3 separate regions of the Homo sapiens genome follow, and regions 2 and 3 are each linked to region 1. Evidence: fine-mapped expression QTL. Tissue or cell type: whole blood. Region 1 holds a variant in brackets; each other region holds the start of a gene. All regions are shown on one strand. Distances are from middle to middle.

Evidence for each region. PIP is the estimated chance that this variant, and not a neighbour inherited with it, causes the effect.
Region 2: it holds the start of GNS, and the variant in region 1 is fine-mapped to the expression of GNS in whole blood (TOPMed, PIP above 0.99).
Region 3: it holds the start of TBC1D30, and the variant in region 1 is fine-mapped to the expression of TBC1D30 in whole blood (TOPMed, PIP above 0.99).

The regions. Positions count from the first base shown.
Region 1 is chr12:64,698,362-64,706,466 of GRCh38, forward strand. No RefSeq gene overlaps it. Among named protein-coding and RNA genes, the nearest start is that of GNS, 57 kb to the right of the region's middle. The variant C/T (reference allele first, on the strand shown) is at 3,463.
Region 2 is chr12:64,755,231-64,763,335 of GRCh38, forward strand. GNS (glucosamine (N-acetyl)-6-sulfatase) reads right to left here and starts at 4,176. Exons shown (of 14, transcript NM_002076.4): 1 at 3,855-4,176. The coding sequence starts at 4,046. It overlaps LOC124903113 (small nucleolar RNA U13), which reads right to left and starts at 5,743; the gene lies at 5,638-5,743. It also overlaps a transcript of TBC1D30 not described here. RefSeq lists an enhancer at 2,722-3,602.
Region 3 is chr12:64,820,778-64,828,882 of GRCh38, forward strand. TBC1D30 (TBC1 domain family member 30) reads left to right here and starts at 3,870. Exons shown (of 12, transcript NM_015279.2): 1 at 3,870-4,256; 2 at 7,058-7,119; 3 at 7,667-7,732. The coding sequence starts at 4,103. RefSeq lists a silencer at 3,690-3,929 and enhancers at 4,568-5,075, 6,753-6,802.

The DNA.
Region 1 (8,105 bases):
TTTGGGGGTTCTACTTGGGTTACTACCCAAGGTGCGTGGAGAATGTTTGGGAATTTTTATATTTTTATCCTTTATTTTTTTTGGAGATGGAGTCTCAATGTGCCACCCAGGCTAGAGTGCAGTGGCATGATCTTGGCTCACTGTAACCTCCACCTCCCAGGTTCAAGCGATTCTCCTGCCTCAGCCTCCCTAGTAGCTGGGATTACAGGTGCCTGCCACCATACCCGACTAATTTTTTTTTTTGTATTTTTAGTAGCGACGGGGTTTCTCCACGTTGGCTAGGCTGGTCTCAAACTCCTGACCTCAAGTGACCAACACACCTCAGCCTCCCAAAGTGCTGGGATTACAGGTAGGACTTTTTTTTTTAAGTCAATTTTTATTACTAAAAAAAAACCTTTTTTTTTGAGATAGAGTTTCACTCTGTCTCCCAGGCTGGAGTGCAGTGGCACGATCTGGGCTCACTGCAACCTCTACCTCCTAGGTTCAAGCAATTGTCCTGCCTCAGCCTCTGGAGTAGATGGGATTACAGGCGTGTGCCACCACACCTGGCTAATTTTTGTATTTTTAGTAAAGACGGGGTTTCACCCTGTTGGCCAAGGTGGTCTCAAACTCCTGACCTCAGGTAATCTGCCGGCCTTGGCCTCCCAGAGTGCTGGGATTACAGGTGTGAGCCACCGTGCCTGGCTCACATGAATATTTATTGAAACAACAGTTATCAGTTGGTGACAAATTCGGAGACACTGTCAGATAACGCTAATTAGGTATTTTGTTTTATTGAAAGAAGGGGGCTGGGCGCGGTGGCTCATGCCTGTAATCCCAGCATTTTGGGAGGCCGAGGTGGGCAGATCATGAGGTCAGGAGTTTGAGACCAGCCTGACCAAACATGGTGAAACCCCGTTTCTACTAAAAATACAAAAATTAGCTGGGCGTGGTGGCGCACACCTGTAATCCCAGCTACTCAGGAGGCTGAGGCAGGAGAATTGCTTGAGCCAGGGAGGCGGAGGTTGCAGTGAGCCGAGATCGCCCCATTGCACTTAGCCTGGGCGACAAAGTGAAACTCCGTCTCAAAAAAAAAAAAAAAGAAAAGGGGCCAGGCACAGTGGCTCATGCCTGTAATCCCAGCACTCTGGGAGGCCAAGGCGGGCTGATCTCTTGAGGCCAGGAGTTCAAGACCAGGTTGGCCAACATGGCAAAACCTCTTCTCTGCTAAAAATATAAAAATTAGCCAGGCGTGGTGGCACACGACTGCTGTCTCAGCTACTCAAGAGGCTGAGGCAGGAGAATTGCTTGAACCCGGGAGGCGGGGTTCAAGCCCCGTGATTGCGCCACTGTACTCCAGTGAGCCGTGAGTACTGCAGTGAGCCATGATTGCGCCACTGTACTCCAGCCTGGGCAACAGAGCAAGACTCTATCTCAAAAAAAAAAAAAAAAAAAAAAAGGGTGGTGGTGAAGGTCTACACTATAGTAGCCAATGCCAACAAAGTGCTTACCATGTGCTAGGCATTCTTCTGAAATGCTTAATATGTATCAACTCATTGACTCTCCTGTGACGTTATCACACTATTTCGTCATATCCCTTTTTTCACAAATGTGGAAATGGACATGTTGAGGTTTAGCAGCTTGCTCAAGGCCACTGTGTGAGTGAGTGGCAGAGCCGGACACTGCCCCGTTTCTCTACCATCTTTTCCTGTAAGTGCTCTCTAGTTTCTCAGTTAAATTGCCTATTGAGTAAAGGAGCAAAAGTCTGTTAAATTGCCGTAATGGACAGTTTGCCCAGAAGCGTAACTGTTTTGGTGCCATTGGGGTTTGTTGATATCAGTGTGTTCTCATCCATTTTGGTTCATTTATCATTTCATTCAGGTGATTATACTAAGTCACATAGAATGAAATGCTGACCTGTGCTTTCTTTTTATTTTTTCGGATGGGGTTTCACCTTGTCATCCAGGCTGGAATGTAGTGGCGTGATTACGGCTCACTGCAGCCTTAACCTCCTGGGCTTAAGAGATCCTCCCATCTCAGCCTCTCAAGTAGCTGGGACAACAGGTGCCTGCCACCACATCCAGCTAATTTTTTTTCATTTTTGTAAAGATGGAGTCAGGCTATATTACCCACGCTGGTCTCAAACTCCTGGGCTTAAGTGATCCTCCTGCTTTGGCCTCCTAAAGGGCTGGGATTACAACCACCATGCCCAGCCCAGACCTGTATTTTCATTTAGAGGTTCTGTTGCATGGGGGAAATAACACGGCAGGTAACCAAACTTAGTGGTCTCACTGTAGTTGGTAAGACAATTCTCCTGGAACCACCAGAAGAACAGCTTCAGTACTACAGAGTGCTATAGGAGCCACAAAACTTGTGCAAAGGTTTGACTCATGGAACCATTCCCCCAAACAAGGCTCATCCTCTGCAGAGAGAAACTAGGAGGTAAGTATTCAAAGTCTAAAGCATATGCTTGTGTGGTGTGAATCACTACTTGCTTAATTGAATGTTCAAGAAAGAAGTTTTATATAAGGATAAAGGTGGGGGGGCAGGTGTGGTGAAGGCTGGAATAGGAGGGAGTGGGGACTAGCTGGGTTATATACCAACAACTCTGAAGCTAAATCATTTATTCCATCTTCAGGCTTGGATCTGGGTTTGGGTTTTTGTTTTTTGTCTTTTGGGGTTTTTTTGCCTGTTGGTTTTGGTTTCATTTTGTTTTGTTTTTTGACAAGTCTTTCCCTATTCCAGGAGATGAGAATAGCAGGGTACAGGATAGACCCCTTTGATCTTAAATAGTGTTTCCAAAGGATGATTGTGGTTCTCACGTGTCTGGCTGAGGCTGCATTTGGCATCAAGTGAACTCTGAAAGCTCCTCTCTTCTTCTTGTTTCTGAGAAATGTGAGCACCTTTAAGTATTATTTACGCACAAACAACAAAACATCAGGGCTCTTTGTAAACCTCAAAAGAAATTGGGATTTGACTTTGTTTTGGGGAGGGAGTTATTTCAATCAGGAGAGTTCATTTTTTTCTCTTTCTAAACGAGGAGTTCCGATTACAATGGGCCTGGGTCATTAAGGGCATCTATCTGGTTTGTGTTTGCTGGCATATGTACTGCCGGCTGTTGAGCCACGCTTTGTGGACACGTGGGATTCATTAAGCCCTCTGTGGTTCCTGTCTCTGAAGTGGCTTTCTAGGGAGGCTCTGCTCTACAGGGTTTTTCCATTTACAGGTGCAATAAAATTTGTTTAAATTCTAAAAATTCTGAAGCAGCAAACTTTAGTGCCTTGCCAAAACTTAGAATTCTTGAATTACTGCTGTTGCAGGCAGGGAGGCAACAGCTTAAATTCAAACCTTTTACTCAGAACTATAAATGGTGTCTTCAGATTCTTTTAAAGATGGTGAACATTTCAAACATTTTTCTTGCATATGTGATCTTTGCAAGGAAAACATTCATAGTCAATTTTGTTTAGGTCAGATTGAGTATTT[C/T]GAGGCCTTATTAATAAAAGATGCTTGACTGAGCAGGTAAGGCCAACCATAGAAACTGAGGAACAAAAAGACCAGCTTTCAGAAAACTTCCAGTTCTTTTTTTTTTTTTTTCTGAGACAGAGTCTCACTCTTGCGCCCAGGCTGGAGTGCAGTGGCTCGGTCTTGGCTCACTGCAGCCTGCGCCTCCCAAGTTCAAGCGATTCTCCTGACTCAACCTCCCAAGTAGCTGGGATTACAGGCACCCACCACCACGCCCAGCTAATTTTTGTATTTTTAGTAGAGACAGGGTTTCACCATGTTGGCCAGGCTGGTCTTGAACTGCTAACTTCAGGTGATCCACCCGCCTCGGCCTCCCAAAGTGCTGCGATTACAGAGGTGAGCCACTGTGCCCAGCCATCAGAAAACTTCCAGTTCTATCGCCTTTATCTAGATACAGTTTGTATAGGAGTTTGTGTGTGCTGGGGAAGGAAGTGGGCTTTAAGGGTGTAGTGGTGTTGGGGAGGCCAGAAATAATGTCCCCTTTATCATGGAAAGTTATTTGTTATGAAGGTGGTAGTTAGGAAAAGGCAACGTTTAGGATCTTTCGGAAGATATTTCAAGACAAAATGAGGTTACCACACTATTTCTTCACAGACTGCCTTCGGAACTGTGGAAGGTGCTGAATTTTGTTTTTTCGAGGTAGGTCTTGCTCTGTTACACAGTAGCATGATCATAGCTCACTGAAGCCTCTAGTTTCTAGGCTCAAGCAATCATCCCACCTCAGCCTCCCAAGTAGCTGGGACTAGAGGGGCATGCCACCATGCCCAGCAAATTTTTTAATTTTTTTGTAGAGATGAGGTCTGGCTATGTTGCCCAGGCTGGTCTCGAAATCCTGGCCTCATGATCTTTCTGTCTTGACCTCTCAAGACACTAGGATTATAGGTGTAAGCCACTGCCCAGGCTGATTTTTTAAAGGCAGATTTTTCTGTTCATTGACTCTGAAGCTACTTAATCTGAATCTCTGGTACTGGCCCCTGAGAATCTGCCATTTTAATAAGTGCCCCCTATTTTTTCAAATGCTGACTGCAAATCCTAGAGCTCTACAGAGGGTTTCTGGGGCTGAAGGGATACATCATTGTGCACAGAGTATTTCCCTCATACCCCTTGTTTTGAAATTTTAAATAAATTACTTCCAAATTGAGAGTAATGACTAGCCTGCAAAGAGGCTTTCTGACCTGCCTCACTTAGCCCTGGAAAGGACAATTCTATATACCCTGTTCCCCTGGACCATGGCTAATTGGATCTTAGACCTCTGTTGAAAGGCCATTGATCAACTAGATTTTCTCAAAATTTTATTTATTTATTTATTTATTTATTTATTTATTTATTTAGAGACAGAGTCTCGCTCTGTTGCCCAGGCTGGTGTGCAGTGGCATGATCTTGGCTCACTGCAGCCTCCACCTCCCGGGTTCAAGTGATTCTTGGGCCTTACCCTCCCAATTAGCTGAGATTACAGGTGCCCACCACCACACCTGGCAGATTTTTTTTTTTTTTTTAGTAGGGATGGCGTTTCGCCATGTTGGCCAGCCTGGTCTCAAACTCCTGGCCTCAGGTGATCTGCTCGCCTCGGCCTCCCAAAGTGCTGGGATTACATGCATGAGCCACCGTGCCGGCCATAGCGAAACTTGTGGCCAGCTACTTGGGAGACTGAGACAGGAGAATCTCTTGAACCTAGGAGGCAGAGGTTGCAGTGAGCCGAGATTTTGTCACTGTACTCCAGCCTGGGTGACAGAGTGGGACTCCCTCTCAAAAAAAAAAAAAAAAAAAAAATTACTCTTGTTACTCTTATTCTGTTCTCTCTCTCTACATATATATATATATGTATGTATACATACATATATATATGTATGTATACATACATATATATATGTATGTATACATACATATATATATGTATGTATATAGTGACCTCTATTATCTATTGGCTAGCTTCAAAGAAGCTTGCCAAATGACAAGTGCTGATATTGCTGCTGCAACCAACTTCATAGGTCTTTCAGGAATTTACTGTTTACAAGTGTCTGCAGTATGAAGCTTTAATGCATATGATCTATAATATTCTAACCTAACATTTAAGCTTCCACATTATTGGAAACACAGTCGGGTCTACATGTGGTCTCTTCTTTCCCTCTTTCCCTCCCTCCTTTCTATCTTATTTAATGTCCTTGTATCCTGTGATATCTGTACTCTTTTTTTTTTTTTTTTTTGAGATGGAGTCTTGCTCTGTCGCCCAGGCTGGAGTGCAGTGACACAATCTTGGCTCACTGCAAGCTCTGCCTCCTGGGTTTATGCCATTCTCCTGCCTCAGCCTCCTGAGTAGCTGGGACTACAGGCGCCCGCCACCACGCCCAGCTAATTTTTTTGTATTTTTTTAGTAGAGACAGGGTTTCACTATGTTAGCTAGGATGGTCTCGATCTCCTGACCTTGTGATCTGCCCGCCTCGGCCTCCCAAAATGCTGGGATTACAGGTGTGAGGCACCATCCCGGCCTATTTATTTTTTAATTGAGATGGAGTTTCGCTCTTTTTGCCCAGGCTGGAGTGCAATGGCACCATCTCGGCTCACTGCAACCTCCGCCTCCTGCTTTCAAGTGATTCTCCTGTCTCAGCCTCCCAAGTAGCTGGGATTACAGGCATACATCACCACGCCTGGCTAATTTTGTATTTTTAGTAGAGACGGGGGTTTCTCCATGTTGGTCAGGCTGATCTCGAACTCCCGACCTCAGGTGATCTGCCCACCTCGGCCTCCCAAAGTACTGGGATTACAGGCATGAGCCACCACACCTGGCCTGTTTTTATTTTTTATTTTTCAAGTCCGCACTGCCTGGTCCCATGACCCACCCCCTAGAACTGGGTAGATTATGATGAGTGAGAACATCATGAACTCTGTTATGAAAATCAGAGTCCATGTGTAGTGTAAACTGTTAAGTGTCATAGAGATAAAATTCAGTGTACTATGAGTGTATAACAGGAGGACAGAGAAGGCGTCCTTGAGAAAGTGATTTAGAGCTGAGATCTTGAGGAGGAGGAGGAGGGGTTACCTAGAAGAATAACTTACATGAACATGTTCTGCATGGTGGGGACTGGTGTCTGAGGTCTTTCTTTTTGACAGTGTGTTTTATCGGGATTACTCTTGCCGGTTCGCCGCCTCCCCATGGCAAAAACCTCAATTACTTTTGTACCAACCTATAATATTATAAGCAAAGAACTTTAGGCCTAAATAATTCTCCTCATGTTAAGAGTTCATCTTTGGCAAGGGTGGAGTTAAAATTAACAATGGCAGGCCAGGCGCGGTGGCTCCCGCCTGTAATCCCAGCACTTTGGGAGGCTGAGGCGGGAGGATCACCTGAGGTCAGGAGTTCTAGACCAGCCTGGCCAACATGCACCTAGCTGGGCATGGTGGCGCCCAACTCTCAGCTACTTGGGAGACTGAGGCAGGAGAATTGCTTGAACCAGGGAGATGGAGGTTGCTGTGAGCTGAGATCGCATCACTGCACTCCAGCCTGGGCGACAGAGTAGGACTCTGTCCCCGCCGCCCTCCCCCCAGAAAAATTTACAGTGGCAATTGCTCTGGCTCAAACATATTTTTTCCCCTTGTAAAATGGAGAGGATATCACTTGTTTGCCTACCTCACAGGGCTGCTGTGAGGACCAAATTGGGAATGTGCAAGTATCTTGTGCATTGTAATTCCTGGTATAGCGTGAGATGGTATTATTTTCCAACTATTTGTTCCTACAATAATGTGGCTGTTTCAATTCTGGGCCAATGATAGATGCTTATCTCTCATTCTAGAGGCATCCTAGGTGCCAATTTCCAAGATGGACATTTTTCCAAGCAGAAAGGGTTTTGTTTTCTTTTAAAAATTCATGGCCGGGCGTGGTGGCTCACACCTGTAATCCCAGCACTTTGGGAGGCCAAGGTGGGTGGATCGCCTGAGGTCAGGAGTTTGAGACCAGCCTGGCCAACATAGTGAAACCCCATCTCTACTAAAAAAAATACAAAAATTAGCTGGGCGTGGTGGTGAGCACCTGTAATCCCAGCTACTCGGGAAGCTGAGGCAGGAGAATCGCTTGAACCTGGAAGGCGGAGGTTGCAGTGAGCCAAGATTGCGCCATTGGACTCCAGCCTGGGCAACAAGAGCGAAACTCCATCTCAAAAAATAAAATAAGATAAAATAAAAATTCATGCTAAGGGAAGGAAATAGAGTTAAAAGCAAAACATTCAAGATTCTTAGGGTGATTGGTAGGCCAGATTGTTTAGTGCCTTGCCTTGTGCTCCCTAAAAATACAGTCACAAAGTGTTCTTTCTTCCTTGACAAGATAGAGTCCAAATGCTCAGAGCAGCTGAGACTGGGGATGCCCAGGTTTTCATATCAACATAAGGCACAGAGTGGTGTTGCATGATCCAAACCAGACGGCTGTGTGTCGGTGCAGTCGGGGGCCTTGACCTTTGTTTCTAGTCCATGTTTTTATGCATGTAAATTCTCCCCTAGATAGTAATCTCCTTGGAGACTGGACCATATCTTCAGTTCACTTTGCATCTCTCCTAGCTGCAGGGCACAGCATTTGTGGGACTAAACATTTCATAGACATGTCTGGAAACAGCTAG
Region 2 (8,105 bases), 57 kb after region 1:
CTCTGAAACGACAATTCTGATAATTCTGTGGCTAACAATGGAAATTGTTTTGCTTTCAGTGAAGCAATGACATATTTATTCTCACACCTGTAATCCCACCCCTTTGGGAGGCTGAAGTGGGCGGATCACTTGAGGTCAAGAGTTCAAGATCAGCCTGGCCAACATGGTGAAATCCCGTCTCTACTAGAAATACAAAAATTAGCCGGGCGTGGTGGTGGGTGCCTGTAAACCCAGCTACTTGGGAGGCTGAGACAGGGGAATCTCTTGAACTCAGGAGAAGGAGGTTGCAGTGGGCCGAGATCGCGCCACTGCACTCCAGCCTGGGTGACAGAGCAAGACTCCAACTCAAAAAAAAAAAAAAAATTATTCTTCCCCTACCTTTCATCATAGTTTCTTCTTTCACTTGCCTGTGGTTTTGGCCAAATGTCACTTTTCTTAGAGTAAATGATTTTTTTTTTTTTTTTTTGAGATGGAGTCTTGCTCTGTCACCCAGGCTAGAGTGCGGTGGCACAATCTCAGCTCACTGCAACCTCCACCTCCTGGGTTCAAGTGATTCTCCCACCTCAGCCTCCCGAGTAGCTGGGACTACAGGCACGCACCACCATGCCCGGCCAATTTTTGTATTTTAGGGTTTCGCCATGCTGGCCAGGCTGGTCCTGAACTCCTGACCTCGTGATCTGTCCACCTCGGCCTCCCAAAGTGCTAGGATTACAGGCGTGAGCCACCGCGCCCGGCCATGAATTATTTTTAAAAGAGCAGCTTATGCTTCTGTGAAGAACAGTGTGTCCACCACACTATAATGATGTTTAAATAAAATCAAGAAAGTGATAAGAACAGTGTCCTGGCAAAATAAAAAATAAAAACAGAGTCCCACAGATACCTGGAACAAATACAATGAAATGTTAAAGACGATGCTACTATATAAAAGAGCATTTCAAAGATGCCTGAAAAATTCCACTATAAATCTAAATCATGTTGTAAATGCTATATACAATCCTTTGACCTGAGTGAGATTGGTGGGGGTTAACCACTATTTATTTTGCCAACTATGGCAGCAATCTGTAATCTTTTTTAGGTTAGAGCTCTTTCCACAAAAATGAAGATATTATACACAAAGTTTTACATGTAAATTAAGGAGTTCCATGATGTCACTGGCATCCCCGAATGTCACCTGCAGACTCTCTGACCTATGGTGTGATTATGCTGGTGTGGGTATGTGGAATGAAATCTGATTATTATCACAGTATTCTAGAATAGGAGAAAAAGCATGGTGATCTGAGGTCATAAGATACCCAGGCTTTGTCCAATATTAGCTATATGAACTTAGTCATGTCACTTAACCACCTTCCAGTTTTAGTTTCCTTTTAAGATAAGGATACTATGTACAGCAGAGGACTCCTGTGATGACTGAAGCACAAGTATAAAAATCCTCATACTCTGCTCGGCTCCAAGTAAGTTCTCAAATGCTCTTGTCCTAGCTCTTCCCCTTGGAGTCCTGTTTGACAATTAGTGGTAGAATATTCTGAAAAAGCCTAGAAGAGAAGCCAGAATTCTTGAGTTTGGAACATTAAGTTTGACTTATGCCCTCCACTCAATTTTGGTACCTCTCTCCAGTAGAAACACTTATTAAAAAAAAGAATCTGGGCCGAGACAGTGGCTCATGCCTGTAATCCCAGCACTTTGGGAGGCTGAGGTCCAGGAGTTCAAGAGTTCAGGAGTTCAAGAGTTACTTGAGTCCAGGAGTTCAAGACCGACTTGGGCAACATGGAGAAATCCTGTCTTTACAAAATATTTAAAAATTAGCTGGACGTAGTGACATGTGCCTGTAGTTCCAGCTACTAGGGAGACTGAGGCAGGAGGACTGCTTGAGACTAGGAGTTCAAGGCTGCAATGAGCCTTGATTGTACCACTGCACTCCAGCCTGGATGACAGAGCAAGACCCTGACTCAAAAAATCTGCTACTGGCTTAACGAAGCAAATTGGATTAACATACTAAAGAGACCTCAAATACACACAGACTACAGCTGTGGTTTATAAGAATTGAAGAAACAACTCTGAATACCTTATATTTAAGTAATCAATTTTGTTTTCAACACCTAAAAAAGCCTGACCTTTTAACTGAGTACTTAAGTCACTGCTAGAGAAGGCTTGCTTTTTCTGGACAAAACACTCTTCAAGGACACATTTTCTTTTTTTTAATAAAAAAGGAATTTTGTGAGCAGACAAGTAAGTGCAGTAGTTGGAAGAGTAGTGAACCTAAAGTGTAGGAGGAAAATTAAATTAAGACCAATGTCAACATGGCTTGGTAGAAACTAACAGACAATGAAGCATATATGGCAGGAAGAAATGTGTAGTCAAAATGCAAGCCTCTTAAAACATCAGCTATAAAAGACTCTCAAGCTCTTGAGCATCAACCTAAGAAATATATTTTACAACTCGGGAAGAAAGAGAGATAGATAATGATTACCTTTATCAAGTGTAACACACACACTCACACACATGGACCTTTTCTATTCTATTCTATTCCAGAGGAAATAAAAAATGTTGGTAGTTACTCACTAAACTGATTTCATAACTCACTCAAGGGTTGGGACCAGAGGTTTGAAGGACACTGAGCTAGGGTGTGTAACTACACAAGAAAAGTTAGGAACGTCTTGCCTGGAGTATTTCATAGTCTCAGCATTCAGCTGAAAGCAAAAAGAGAACTGAAACGAAGAAAGCAATAAAGCATTTGGTTTTAAAGCGAAGAGAGGAATGCTGAACCCAGGGTCAGAGGACTCTGCCTCAACTACTCATGTCTTGGGCAAGTTGCTTTCTGGGCCTCCATGGGGAAGGGGTTGGAGTGGATGTTTCCAAAGGTCACACATTCCATAATTCTGCAATACACAAGCAAAATTTACTCTGGAAAAAAAATGAAGTCTTGTGACAACACCCATTAGATAGAAAATGAAACACTGACAGTCTCTAATGCAACAGTCAGGTGTTCAATCACACTAATTGAATTTTCTTGATTCTTGTGAGGCAACACACACCCTCAATAGTTCGACGGTCGGCCTACCAGATTAGTTCACTTCAGGCCTTTTTTTTTTTTTTTTTTTTTTTTTTTTTTTGGAGACGGAGTCTCGCTCTGTCGCCAGGCTGGAATGCAGTGGCGCGATCTCGGCTCACTGCAACTGCTGCCTCCCGGGTTCAAGCGATTCTCCTTCCTCAGCCTCCCAAGTAGCTGGGACTACAGCTGCGCGCCACCACGCCCAGCTAGAATTATTGTATTTCTAGTAGAGACGGGGTTTCACCATGTTGGCCAGGATGGTCTCGATCTCTTGACCTTCTGATCCGCCCGCCTCGGCCTCCCAAAGTGCTGGGATTACATGAGTGACACACCGCGCCCGGCCCAGGCTTATTTTTATTGACATCAGATACAGACATTGTATACAGGCACAAACGTGGAGGTGGTCTAGGTCCCTCATAAAGGGGACTGGACTTGTCTGTGATCCTCTAATCCAAAAGAAAAACAATCAGGCCTTGAGTGCTCTTAGACAGCACCTGATCCTCATTGGTTCAACCCATCCTCCACTGGTCTCCACATGTTTATCTTGAGATATTAACGTAAACTCCACAGCAGTACGGTCCAGACTAGAAGCTCTGTGTGCTGTACGCATGTGCCTCAATCCAGAAAGGAAAAGAGTATTGCAGTCCCTTACACCGGCATAAAGGGCCTCAGGTGGGAAAACCAAACCTACCCAAGGATAAGACAGCCAGTTCGGGGAGGAGGGTGGTGGGGACCGGGAAAGAGAGCAACAAACCGGGTAGTCAGCCCAAGAGATAGAGGGGCGGGGCAGAAACAGAAGAGTTACCATGCCGCCGAGCACTTCGTCCTGGTCGTCCGTGAGGAGCAGCACCACGTTGGGCCTCCGGGTTCCCGCAGCCACCCCGAAGACCCCCAGGCAGCCGCCCAGCACCAGCAGTAGCAGCGCTGGGCTGCAGGAGGGCAGGTGGCGGGGGCTGCCCCGCCGGAGCCGACCTGGGGCTAGAGGCAGGAGCCGCATAGCGGACAGGCTCCGGGGTGACCCCGGGACGGGACGGGACGGAGGGACGCACAGGTAGCTGAAGGGCGAGAGGCCGACCAGCCGAAGGAATAAAAAGCCGTGCCTTGAAGGCCGGTGGCTGGAGTCAGACGTTTTCTCCCTAGGCGCGATCACGTGAGCCAGGGACAGGGGGCGGAGCACGCTGCGCGGTCACGTGACGGCCGGCGTGGGCGGGGCTGCGGACTGGCGCAGCCTGGAGGGAGGCATCAGGCAGTGGCGGAAAAGGGGCGGAGAACCGGAGAAAAGGGCGGAGAACCGGAGAAAAGGGCGGAGAACCGGAGAAAAGGGCGGAGAACCGGGAAAAGGGCGGAGAACCGGGAAAAGGTCAAGACCTGTACGTACCTCTCGCGCAGGCTCGGGTTGCGTTCTGGTAGGACGTACGTGTTTCTGAGCGCTTGGTGGAAAGATTTAAATGGGGGGAAGAGAAGATGAAAAGCAGGAAAGAGTTGGCAAATACTAACCAACCGATAAAGGAAGAGAAAGGAGGACTGTACATAACAGAAATTATCATCAGCTGGTGAGGAAAGTGGACTCTACCATATTTAATCCCCAAGTCGACGGGCACTTATTCAAGGCCCGGATGTTTAATCGTTTTTAATTTTCTCTACAACTTGTGAGATAAATCTTAACATTCTCATTTGGCTCAGACATTAAATTCGGAACTGGTTAGCTCTCTTAACTCCAAAGCCTAATTATGTTCTTCTTTCCTCAGCAGACATCGTAGTTTCAAACAATTTAGGGATGTCCTGACAGCTTTATCCTAATGGTTATCCTAATGGTCCTTGGTGACTTTTTAAACACCCTCTTGGAACATGTTGGAGGATGTGCAGATCGAACAAAAATCTTGAAACGTGGTCATCCAACTGCATTATTAAGTAATCTTTAGCGGGGAATAGCCCTTGAAACTAGCTCCAGATATTTCTGTGGTCGCTCTGGAATAATTAGACTTTGCCCCTCTCCTCTCACCGCCCACCGTGGGCGCGGTGGCTCACGCTTGTAATCCCAGCACTTTGGGAGGCGGGTGGATCACCTGAGGTCAGGAGTTTTAGACCAGCCTGGCCAACGTGGGGAAACCCCGTCTCTACTAAAATACAAAAATTAGCTGGGCGTGGTGGCAGGCGCCTGTAATCCCAGCTACTCGGGAGGCTGAGGCATGAGAATCGCTTGAACCCGGGAGGCGGAGCTTGCAGTGAGCCACTGCACTCTGGCCTCAGGGACAGAGCGAGACTCTTGTCTCAAAACAAACAAACAAACAAAAAATCACAGAGATATTCCTGGCAAGGTGAACTGTCAAGTCACATCCCCAGACCGATATAACAAGGTATACCTCCTTGCTGGTAAAAGTATTTTCTCTGAGTTGAACTGTTTGCCAAGAAGAGTCTCTTAAAACTCGTGAAAACTATTCCAGAACTTAAAGTATTAAAAAAAAAAACTCGTGAAAACACTATACTATAAGGTAAAAATAATGATGGAAACACGTTGAAACCTGATGTGTACAAGGATAGGGCTTATGCAAAAAAAAAAAAATTACCTTTATTACTTTGTTTTTTTCACACAGAGGGGTAATGCGCGGAGTCCTAACAAGGTTTGAGGTAGGGGTGGTAACTCACACAATAGCATGAAAACCCAATCATCAGGCTTATGAACCACAAAAGGATCTTAATACTTTTTTTTTTTAAGTAAGCCTACAGAAGGCAAAAGAAGCTTTAAAAAAACTGAAGTAGTTTTTCTGCAAGAAACAATTATGCCGGAAGTGTGGTCAGAGCAGTTCCTAGACAACCAGAATACTTGGTTACAGCCTTGGCCTAGGCCAATTTTTCAAGCTGGTTAGAATAACTAATCCTTCTGTATTCAGGTTTCAAGACTTCCAGGAAGACTTTCTTGCACAAAAAAATAACCTATTTCATCTGTATCGAAGCCCCAAATTGTAAAATTGTTTCTTTTCTATTTTTTTCAAGGTTAGATTATAAACTATTTGAGGCCAGAAATTGTGTAATTAGTTGCCCACTTTGTTCAGGATGCTGCTGTCAGAGGCGATTGAACCAGAGCAACTCCATCTTGAAAAGGGGCTGAGTAAAATAAGCCTGAGGCCTGCTATGCTGCATTCCCAGATGGTTATGCATTCTAAGTCACAGGATGAGATAGGAGGTCATAAAGATACAAGATACAAGATGCATGTCATAAAGACCTTACTGATGAAACAGGTAGCAGTAAAGAAGCCGACTAAAACCCACCAAAACCAAGATGGTGATGAAAGTGACCTCTGGTCGTCCTCACTGCTAAATTCCCACCCAGCGCCATGACAGTTTACAAACGCCATGGGAATGTCAGGAAGGTACCCTCTCTGGTCTAAAAAGGGGAGGCATGAATAATCCATCCCTTGTTTAGCATATCATCAAGAAATAACCATAAAAATGGGCAACGAGTAGCCCTCGGGCTGCTCTGCCTATGGAGTAGCCATTCTTTTATTCCTCTACTTTCTTAATAAACTTTCTTTCACTTTACTCTATGGTCTTGTCCTGAATTCTTCCTTGCTCGAGATCCAAGAACCCTTTCTTGATGTCTGGATCAGGACCCCTTTCCGGTAACACTGCTACACTAGTGCTGAAGAGACATTGTCCCTCGTTCATGGAATTTGCAGTCTAATGGCAGAGAGATGGACAATCTAATCTTGTATCTTGTATATGATTACAAATAGACATGCTATGAAGGAAAAGTAAAGGGTGCAATGAGCATTTAAGGTGGTGGGAGGCTGATTTAGTCTAAGGTGCCCTGAGGAAGTGATCTTTGAGTGAAATCTGAAGTTTGAGTAGGAGATAATTTGTTAATGGAGTATTGGGGTGGTGGAATGTCTCCTAAGCACAGAGTACAGCATATGCAAAGGTTCTGAGCTGGTGCATTGCAATAACTAAAAGAAGCCAGTGTGGTTAGAGCAGAGGGAGAGAGGTGGTGAGGACCCAGATCCTATTTTAAGGACTTGGGTTTTTATAGTAAGGCTAATTGGAAATTACTGAAAGAATGTAAGATAAATATAATCATACATGAACTTTTAGAAGATCCTTTAGACTGTGGCATGAAGAACAGATTGGAAGAGGACAAGCATGGGTGAGGGTAGACCAATTAGGTAGAGAGAAAAGTGGATAACAGGGACAGATTCAAATTTTGTGGGGCCTGAAGTTTATGTGCATTTGGCGAGTGGAGGCTCCTTAAGAAAAAGAATAACAATTTTAGATACAAAAGTAGGTACACAACTGAATATGTATTTAGACTAAAACAAAATATAACGTTATAAATTTTTAAAAGTTGAAAAATATTACAAATAATGCAAAAATTTAACGTAACATATTTTTATTAAGTAACTGCCAGGCATACTTCTTCATACTTTTTTCCCCTTACATTATATGGCTATGTGCTCTTTAATCATCTCTTCATATGATGTTAGTTTATAATATTTTCTAAAGAAAATAGAAAGATAATTTAGTTTTTTCTCTAGTGTGTTTGATCAGTATTTGCCTTTTATTGGTGATAATTCAGAAAAATTATTTTTCACCTCAGTTCATTATTGGTTTTATATATATGTTTAGTATTTTTGTCAAATTTCAGAAAACTCTATCAAATATCCTCTTAACATAGGCATTTCGTGACATTCTGCATTTTATTTTGTATTATTTTATTTTTTGAGATGGAGTCTTGATCTGTCTGCGCTCTTGGCTCACTGCAACCTCCACGTCCCAGGTTCAAGCAATTCTCCTGCCTCAGCCTCCTGAGTAGCTGGGATTACAGGCATGCGTCACTATGCCCGGCTAATTTTTGTATTTTTAGTAGAGATGGGGTTTCGCCATGTTGGCCAGGCTGGTCTCGAACTCCTGACTTCAGGTGATCTACCCGCCTCAGCCTCCCAAAGTGCTGGGATTATAGGCGTGAGTTTTATGTTATCTTCCTCAATGCTAGTGTGAGATCAAATCGAAAGAAATTTGAATATTTTTCAATGAGTTTATATAATTCACAAGTTGTCAATTT
Region 3 (8,105 bases), 120 kb after region 1:
ACAATCAACATAATACTAGGCTTGGGCCATCGCTGCTTTTAGAGTATTGTGTTTTAGTGCTCATGTAATTATCTGTTTGCTATAAAAGTTGGCAGTCCTGACTTTCCTCTCCAATGTAAACAAAATAATATTATCTAATTCCTTTGCTGTTTATTGCCATCATAGCAGAAACTCTTAAATTTTATTTTAAAAACAGAGTTAGATTTTCCTCGTAATAGATCTAAAAGAGGTGAAATTGAATGTTCCTTTTGCAAGCAAACAAGCTTCTGTCACTACTAGTAAAGAAAAGTATTACAAGTAAAGAAGAATCTAAAGAGAGGTCTTTTTATCAGTCATGACACATGGGTGAGTTGACAGCCTAGAGTCTAGATGTCAGCTTTGGCAGTCTGGAAATTTGGTGTCTTCAGGTTACTGACTGGTAAGTGAACTCAGGGGTATTGACTGCTATTAACTGGTCAGTATATTCTCTGTGCTGCAGCAGAGTCTATATGGGAAATCAAATGACAATCCAAAGTTTGCTTGGTGAGCATGACGTCAGAGCCAAAGGGAGTTGGATGGTCTGAGTGGCATATGTCACAGCCCCAGGGGCAGGACGTCCTCCTCTCCACTCCAGAGACAGTGTTGTAGAACAGAGCTGATTGCTTGTCCTCTTGGCTTGCCTAGTGATGGAAACCGAGCATGAATAGCCTCTCTTGTTAAAATAGAACACAAAACCCTCTAAGATTTGAGCATATGAGAGGTCTGGAAGACGAGACTGTGCATGCAGTTACCAACTTGTCCTGCTGGATTTTCCCTCTCCTGCCAGTTCCCTCTCTTTGACTTCGGGTGTTCATCACCATCTTCAGCCCCAGGGTATACTGTGCCCTCTAAAAAACTGGTCAAAGGGAAGCATCAGACCTCTTCCTATGGCTCTCAGTACAACTGAGATAGGCTGCAACAGCCAATGAGTGTCTTATTAAAATTAATACAAAGCTGAAGGATACAAACATGTACCAAAACTGTAAAAAGTTGATGGTTGATGGAGGATAAATTTCTGTACCGGAGCTCGCAGCAAAAGGTTGGGAAATTTAAGCCAAGCAATTAGTCATGACCAGCTTAAACAGTGACTTCATTTTCTAAAGTGATGCCTTTTCAAAGAGTACTGCCCTTTTGAAAGCATCTTTACCTCTGCCAGGCAGCTACAACTGAATAGCTTGCATGTCCTTTATTAGCCTGCTTTACTTTTGCAGATGGCTCATCTCATTTTTAATAGATTCTTTTACAGCTCATTCTTAGGGTTGCACCATTTCTGACATTGTCCTCAAATTCTGGGAAGCGTCATAGGAATGCCTTCTTTTTCTGGCTTGTTTAGGCTATCTTTATGAAGGCATTTAAAAATATTCAATATTTTTTCAATCAATAGCAGCCATTTTTTTTTCTTTTGATACAGGGTCTTGCTCTCTCACCCAGGCTGGAGTGCAGTGGCCAATCATAGCTCACTGTAACCTTGAATTCCTGGGTTCAAGTGATCCTCCTGCCTCAGCCTCTCAAGTAGCTAGGACTACAGGCATACACTACCACACCTGGCTAAGTTATTTTATTTTTGCAGAAACAGGGTCTTGCTATTTTGCCCAGACTAGTCTTGAACTACTGGCCTCAAGTGATTGTCCCACCTTGGCCTCCCAAAGCACTGGGATTACAGACCTGAGCCACAGCACCTGACCCAGCAATTAATTGCTTTTTGTTTTTGTTTTTACTTCTGAGGCAGGGTCTCACCATCACCCAGGCTGGAGTACAGTGGTGCGATAATGGCTCATTGCAGCCTTGACCTCCCTGGCCTCAGGTGATCCTCCCACCTCAGCCTCCTGAGTAGCTGGGCCTACAGGTGTGTGCCATCATGCCCAGCTAATTTTTGTAGCTTTTTTTTTTTTTTTGTAGAGATGGGGGTTTGCCATGTTGTCCAGGCTCAGCCATTGTTTTTCAAGTTCAAATTGTTTCATCTTTGGCCAATAGGAAGGAGCCTATTTATGTGACTCTTGTGTCTTTTTGACTTGACCCCATTAATTGTGAAACATTTCCTTTCTTTTTGAGCTCATCAAAATGTTTCAGGGTCATCTTGTACTTTTTCTGTCCCAAACCTGGAATCAGTCACTCCTCAAAGGAGCCTTAGTTCCTTTGAGTGGGGAATGGTTTTTAGAGACCATAACCTGGGTGCTGTGGGTGTTCATTGCTGCTGAGTTGTCCTTACTTCTAAACCTATTCAATGAATGTATGTATTTTTTTGAAAAGAAAAAAAAATGAGTTCATACTAGTGTTTCCCATATAAATATATAATTGTAATATTTTAAAGAAAACTTAATTACTTTGGTTATACACATATTTTCTATTACACTGAAAACATCTTGGCTCCATTTGATGTTAGCATACTTATTTATTTGCTTTATCCTGTAGTGGATATAAGAATTTAAGAAATATGAATATTATTAATAACAATAATACTACTGAATGAAATGTAAGGTTTCTTTGCAGTTTTATTTGCTCTGGGAATATGTACAACTGTTGATGTACAGTCATAATATTGTGTTCTATGTCAACTTAAGAGAGAATTATTTTTTTCTGTGTTCTTATGCTATAAGTGGGATAGTCCATTAGGTTGATTTGTTTCCATTAATTTTCAATTGTTAGGGTTTTCTTTTACAATTTAAAAATAATTTATTCATTTATAGTCAGGGACTAGGTCTGTTGCTCAGGCTAGAATGCAGGGGTGCAATCATAGCTCACTGCAGCTTTGAACTCCTAGTTTCAAGACATCCTCCTGCCTTGACTTCCCAAAGTGCTAGGAATACAGGTGTGAGCCACCGTGCCCAGACTATTTTATGTATTTTCAAATTTTATTTTTATTTTTATGTCTTTTTAAGAGATGGGGTCTCGCTATGTTGCCCAAGCTGGCCTCAAACTCTTGGGGCTAAGCAATTTTCCCACCTCAGCCTGCCAAGTAGCTGGGACTATAGGCATGCTGTTCCATCATCCTGGTTTTTTAAAAATTTAATTTGTTAATATTATTAATATAGTGTTATTCCAGAGCCAAAACTACAGGAGGCACATCAAGAGAGGACTCAGTTTTCCATTCTTGTCTCCTCCACGATGTTCCTTCTCCTATACAAGTTTTCTAATTTGTTTTTGGTTTATCCATTTAGTGTTTCTTTTTATAAATATTAGCAAACACAAGTATCTTTATATCCCCCCCCCACACCCTTTCTTTCATCCATTTTAATGGTAAATAGTCTATTGGTGAATATTGCCGTTTGAGAATGACTTTTTTTTTTTTAAACCATAATGATGGGCAATAGTTCAGAACTACTGAAGTCTGGCTGGAGAGATGAGGAACATTACTTTTTAATACTGCTTGAAAAGAGAACACTTTTTTTCTGGAAGCCCATTTTTCTAAAAGAAACAATAATTTTTTTTTCCTTCATTTTCTCCGCGCCTCTCTAATCTGCCAGGAAATAATTCAACGCAATTCGGGCTGAAGCGTGTGCCTCGCCGCCTGCGGTTGGGTCATGGCCCCTTCTGAGACTGCTCGGAAGTGGGAGAGGATGCTTGCCCTTACGGGTGTTCTGCCCCTGAGACTGGCGCCCCTTGGTGCTCCCTCTGTTCCCTCCCAGATCTTGGGAGAAGCACGGACATCTCTGTTTCTGCTTTTGGTCCCCGAACGCAGTTACGCGCCCACTGGCTCCCTGTCTCTGGCGCTTCTGGGCACGGGGGAGCTGGGGCGGCCCCGCCTGCGCACGGCGGTGCCGGGATTGGGGGCGGGCACGCCGCCTCCGTCTCCCACGCGCTCGCTCGCTCGCTCGCTCCCGCCCTCCCCGCCTCGAGCGATCTCCTGCCTCAGCCTTGCAGGCTCCGCACTGCAGATGCCTGCTGGCTTCCCTGCGCTCGGCGGCTCCCGCGGTGCCCCGTAAGTCCCCGTGACCCTCCAGCACCAGCCGGCTGTGCGCTCCCTGCTCCCACGGGCCGGTCAGCCGCAGACACTCACCCAGCTCCGCGAGCTCAGCCGCTCAGCGAGTGGGGTAGCGGGGACCGAGACGGACGGTAGCCGTGCCAGAGCCCGGGGCGCTCTCGGATGCGGCAGGACAAGCTGACCGGGTCTCTGAGGCGCGGGGGGAGATGCCTGAAGCGGCAGGGCGGCGGCGTGGGCACCATCCTGAGCAATGTGCTCAAGAAGCGCAGCTGCATTTCCCGGACCGCGCCCCGGCTGCTGTGCACCCTGGAGCCGGGTGAGGACCCCAGGGCTGCAGATGGGGCGCTGTAAAGTAGCGCCGGGGCTGCCCGCGCTTCTGCCTTAGCCTGACTCCGTCTAGGCCGGGGAGCTCTGGGGAAAGTCCGCGTGCCACCTGGTGCGGGGCACCGCGTTGGCACCTGCAGGGAGCGATTGGTCTGGAAGGGTAGAGGGCAGACGGGGGCCTGGGTGGGGCAGCGGCCACCCCAGGCGCGGAGAACCCGCTGCTTCCACCCTCTCCCCGCGGACCCCCACCCTGCGGCCTGTGTGCTCGGCTTTCTCCGCGTGGCGGGGAAGTGCGGGTGGCTGCCCGGGCCCTCAGAGGCCGCACCACCTATTGTGTTCCAGGCTCGCAGGAAGCCAGACCTTGCGAGAGGTGTGTGGGGGCGGAGAGTGGCACAGGTTTGACACTGCAGGTCGGAGGAGGAAGACAGTGGCTGCAAAGGCAAAATCGGGTGTTATTTTCCCAAGAGTCCCTTCAGCGTGAGTGCCGGGGTCAGCTCGAACTGGAGCCTGTAATTTGTGAGTGCGAGTGGGGAGCAGCAGGAGATCCTTTTCATAGGTGAGGTCCAGGAACGAGCCTGGTCGTGCTAGGCAAGGCCCTTCCCACTGTCAGCCTGTGTTTACCCATCCCTGCTTCTCCAGACTGCATAACTCCGTGTCGGCTCCATCACCCGGCATCCCTCCCCGGGATTTTAAGAGCCTGGCCCTAGCGCGGGCTCCTGGGCACGGAGGTTTCTGGCAAGGAGTGGCTGCAGAGGGAGTTGGCTGTACTCTCACTGGTGCTTGGCGCTCACCTGTTCCCTGGAGTGGCACCGGCTGCGTTCCAGGCGGGTTCACGGTCCCCGGCCCCCGCCCCCCAGCGCCAGCGCCTTGGGGACCTGCTGTAGAGCCGCAGGAGAATCGAGCTGCAGAGTCCCAAAGGGTGGGATGCGGCACTGCCTTTCCCAACCTCGTGGTTTCTTTGTTGTTCTCCCCTAGGAAGTGTCTAGTTGCAGAGGCTGTAGTATTTATTCACCATCTTCCTTTACCTCTTTTTTTTTTCTTTTAAATCTCCTTCCCACGTTAAAAGTAAGTGTTTTGTATTTCTGAATCCGGAATAGCTGTGATTATCAGATGAAACATAAACCTTCTCTCTGCCCGTATTCTGTTAGAAGAAAAGAAAAGTGGGGTGAAAGTGACCTGGTTTAAGCTTTTGCATGCAGGCGGCGAATCAATTTCAGTTAAATCCTCTTGCTCATTTTTGATCATGAGAGGATAGTTGTGGTTTTGGCCAACTAACCCCTGCTGGGTTTCACTATGAGAAGGCAATCGGCATGATGCCCAGCAGGTGCCCCGGAAAAGTCAGAAGAGCATATTGGTCAGACATACAGGGAATCCTTGTAGTGTGGCAAGAATAAGTCAGCGCGGGACCGAATTTCCTGGTCTTTGTTATCAAGCAAACGTCATGATTATACGCTCCTCCATTCAGCACCTCGCGTCCGGACAGCAACCTCACTTGTTTTCAGCGTGCCTTAAAGCGTGCGCTGGGCTGGAAACACTCCCGTGGCCGTTGTTATCACCGTTCTATGTTTGGGCAGGACTTCGTTTAAACCACCTCAGAGAGAGGCGGATCCATGTGGTACTTAATATTCCTTCGGAGAAAAAAAAAACTTATCTATCCAGGCAGAGTATGGTTATGGCCCTGAAGCTTTAAAAAGAAATATCAAGGCATTGATTGGATGCCTGGGATTCTCTGCCACAGCTTACTTTGGAAACCTAGGACCCAACTCAGGAATTTACAGCGCTCTTCCAGGGTTCCAAGAACACCTGCATACTGATATGGGCTTGCAAAAATCAGATACATCTCTTTCCAGCTTCTTGACTCCGTGTATATATATATTTTTTAAAAGACCAGTCTACTTGATTACTTACTATTATTTCATAAATTCTGAAGATTGCTCCTATTCATACCAACCACTAAGAAGTGGAAGTTGTGGAGAAGTTTTTAGTACACCTAATCTACAATCAACAATCTTAGAAACAAAAATGCCATCATTTGACTTTTGAAATTTGTAAAACTTAATGTTATTGATAGTATTTGGCATTTCTTGGTCCTTGAACTTTTGGGCAATAATTCCTTTAAAAAATGGGGCCGGGTGCCGTGGCTCATGTCTGTAATCCTAGCACTTTAGGAGGCTGAGGCAGGTGGATCACTTCAGATCAGGAGTTTCAGATCAGCCTGACCAACATGACGAAACCCTGTTCTACAAAAAATACAAAAATTAGCTGTGCGTGGTAGCACGTGCCTATAATCCCAGCTATTTGGGAGGCTGAGGTGGGAGGATTGCTTAAGCCCAGGAATCCAAGGCTGCATTGTGCTATGATTGTGCCTGTGAATAGCCACTATACTTCAGCCTGGGTGATATATTGAGACTGTATCTCTTAAAAAGAAGAAAAGGAATTGAGACTGAGATAGGTTAGATAAATTGTTTCAGTCTAGGAACCAAGTCGAATGGAGGACTGTATGACTCCAAGCCTGTGGTGTCATTTTTTGTTTTTGTTTTTGCTTTTGTGGTACTCCAGGCATCTATGTAAACCACCGTCATATGTAGTAAGGCACTTTCTATTGCTGTAGGGTATTTTCCTATTTTAAGAATCAATATGCTTACCTTTTGGCAAAATTGACTAAAATTTAGTAAAGATACATACTTTAAAAAAAATTGTGATGATTCAGTAGAATCAAGCTTTTACTAGTATTTTTGATATAACTTGTTATAGTCTCCAAAAATAACATCTATTTATGTATTTTTCTTTCAGGAGTTGATACCAAGTTGAAATTCACTCTTGAGCCATCTTTAGGTCAAAATGGTTTTCAGCAGGTAACTTTGATTTTGAAAACACTCTTCTTTTGGGGTTACCAACAGGGCACATTGAGATATATTCTCAAAGTGGAAATAACGTATTCTTTGATATGAATGTGAAGATGAGTCACTTCAACAATATTTCAGTTAAAGTAGCTTTTGAGCTACAAGTGGCCTGGGTTTATATTTGCAGTGACAAATTTTGCACTTTCTATTAATGGTACATGTGTGAAAAATTTTAAAATGAATAAATTTCACACCTGTACCATAATGTCTTTTATTCTGAACCCCATAATATATATTTTGGCTTATTAACCAGAGCTTCCCAACCATTTTGTTTGTACTGCAAAGGGGTCACAGATGTGTTAAGGGTGCCCAAGGGGTGGGACGTGGCACAGTAATAGCCATGGACTGATCACTTCTGTCTGAAAGAAGCTTTGACTGTTTACCCCATTGTGCTGTGCAAATTTCAGCACATTCTATGAATGTCAAGATGGGAAAAAGATTGCAAAGTGCTTATCTAGGTCACTGTGATCACCTCCTGGGATTTCTTCTTTGTTCCTAGTGGTACGATGCTCTCAAGGCAGTTGCCAGGCTATCCACAGGAATACCAAAGGAATGGAGGAGAAAGGTAAGGAGGACTCATAGGGCTAGAATACAGAAGGATCATCACTGCCCTTCTTTAGAGCCTCTGGAATGTCAAAAAATATATTCTAGGTTTAGTTACTTGAAAACCTGTCTTGATTATTCATTCATGCAATAAATATTTATTGATTATTCTGTGCCAAGTAATGTTCTAGGTTCTAGGGATATAGCAATGGAAAAAAACAAAACAGACCAAAGTTTTTTGTCCTCATGGAGCTTACAATGAATAAAATATAAAGTATGTCAGATGGTAATAAGTGCCATGGATAAAAATAAAGTGTAGAGAGAAATAAAGAGCGTTTAGGAGAAAAGGGGTAAGGAGGTGGAATTTTAAATAGCAAGGTGACATTCGAGTAGGC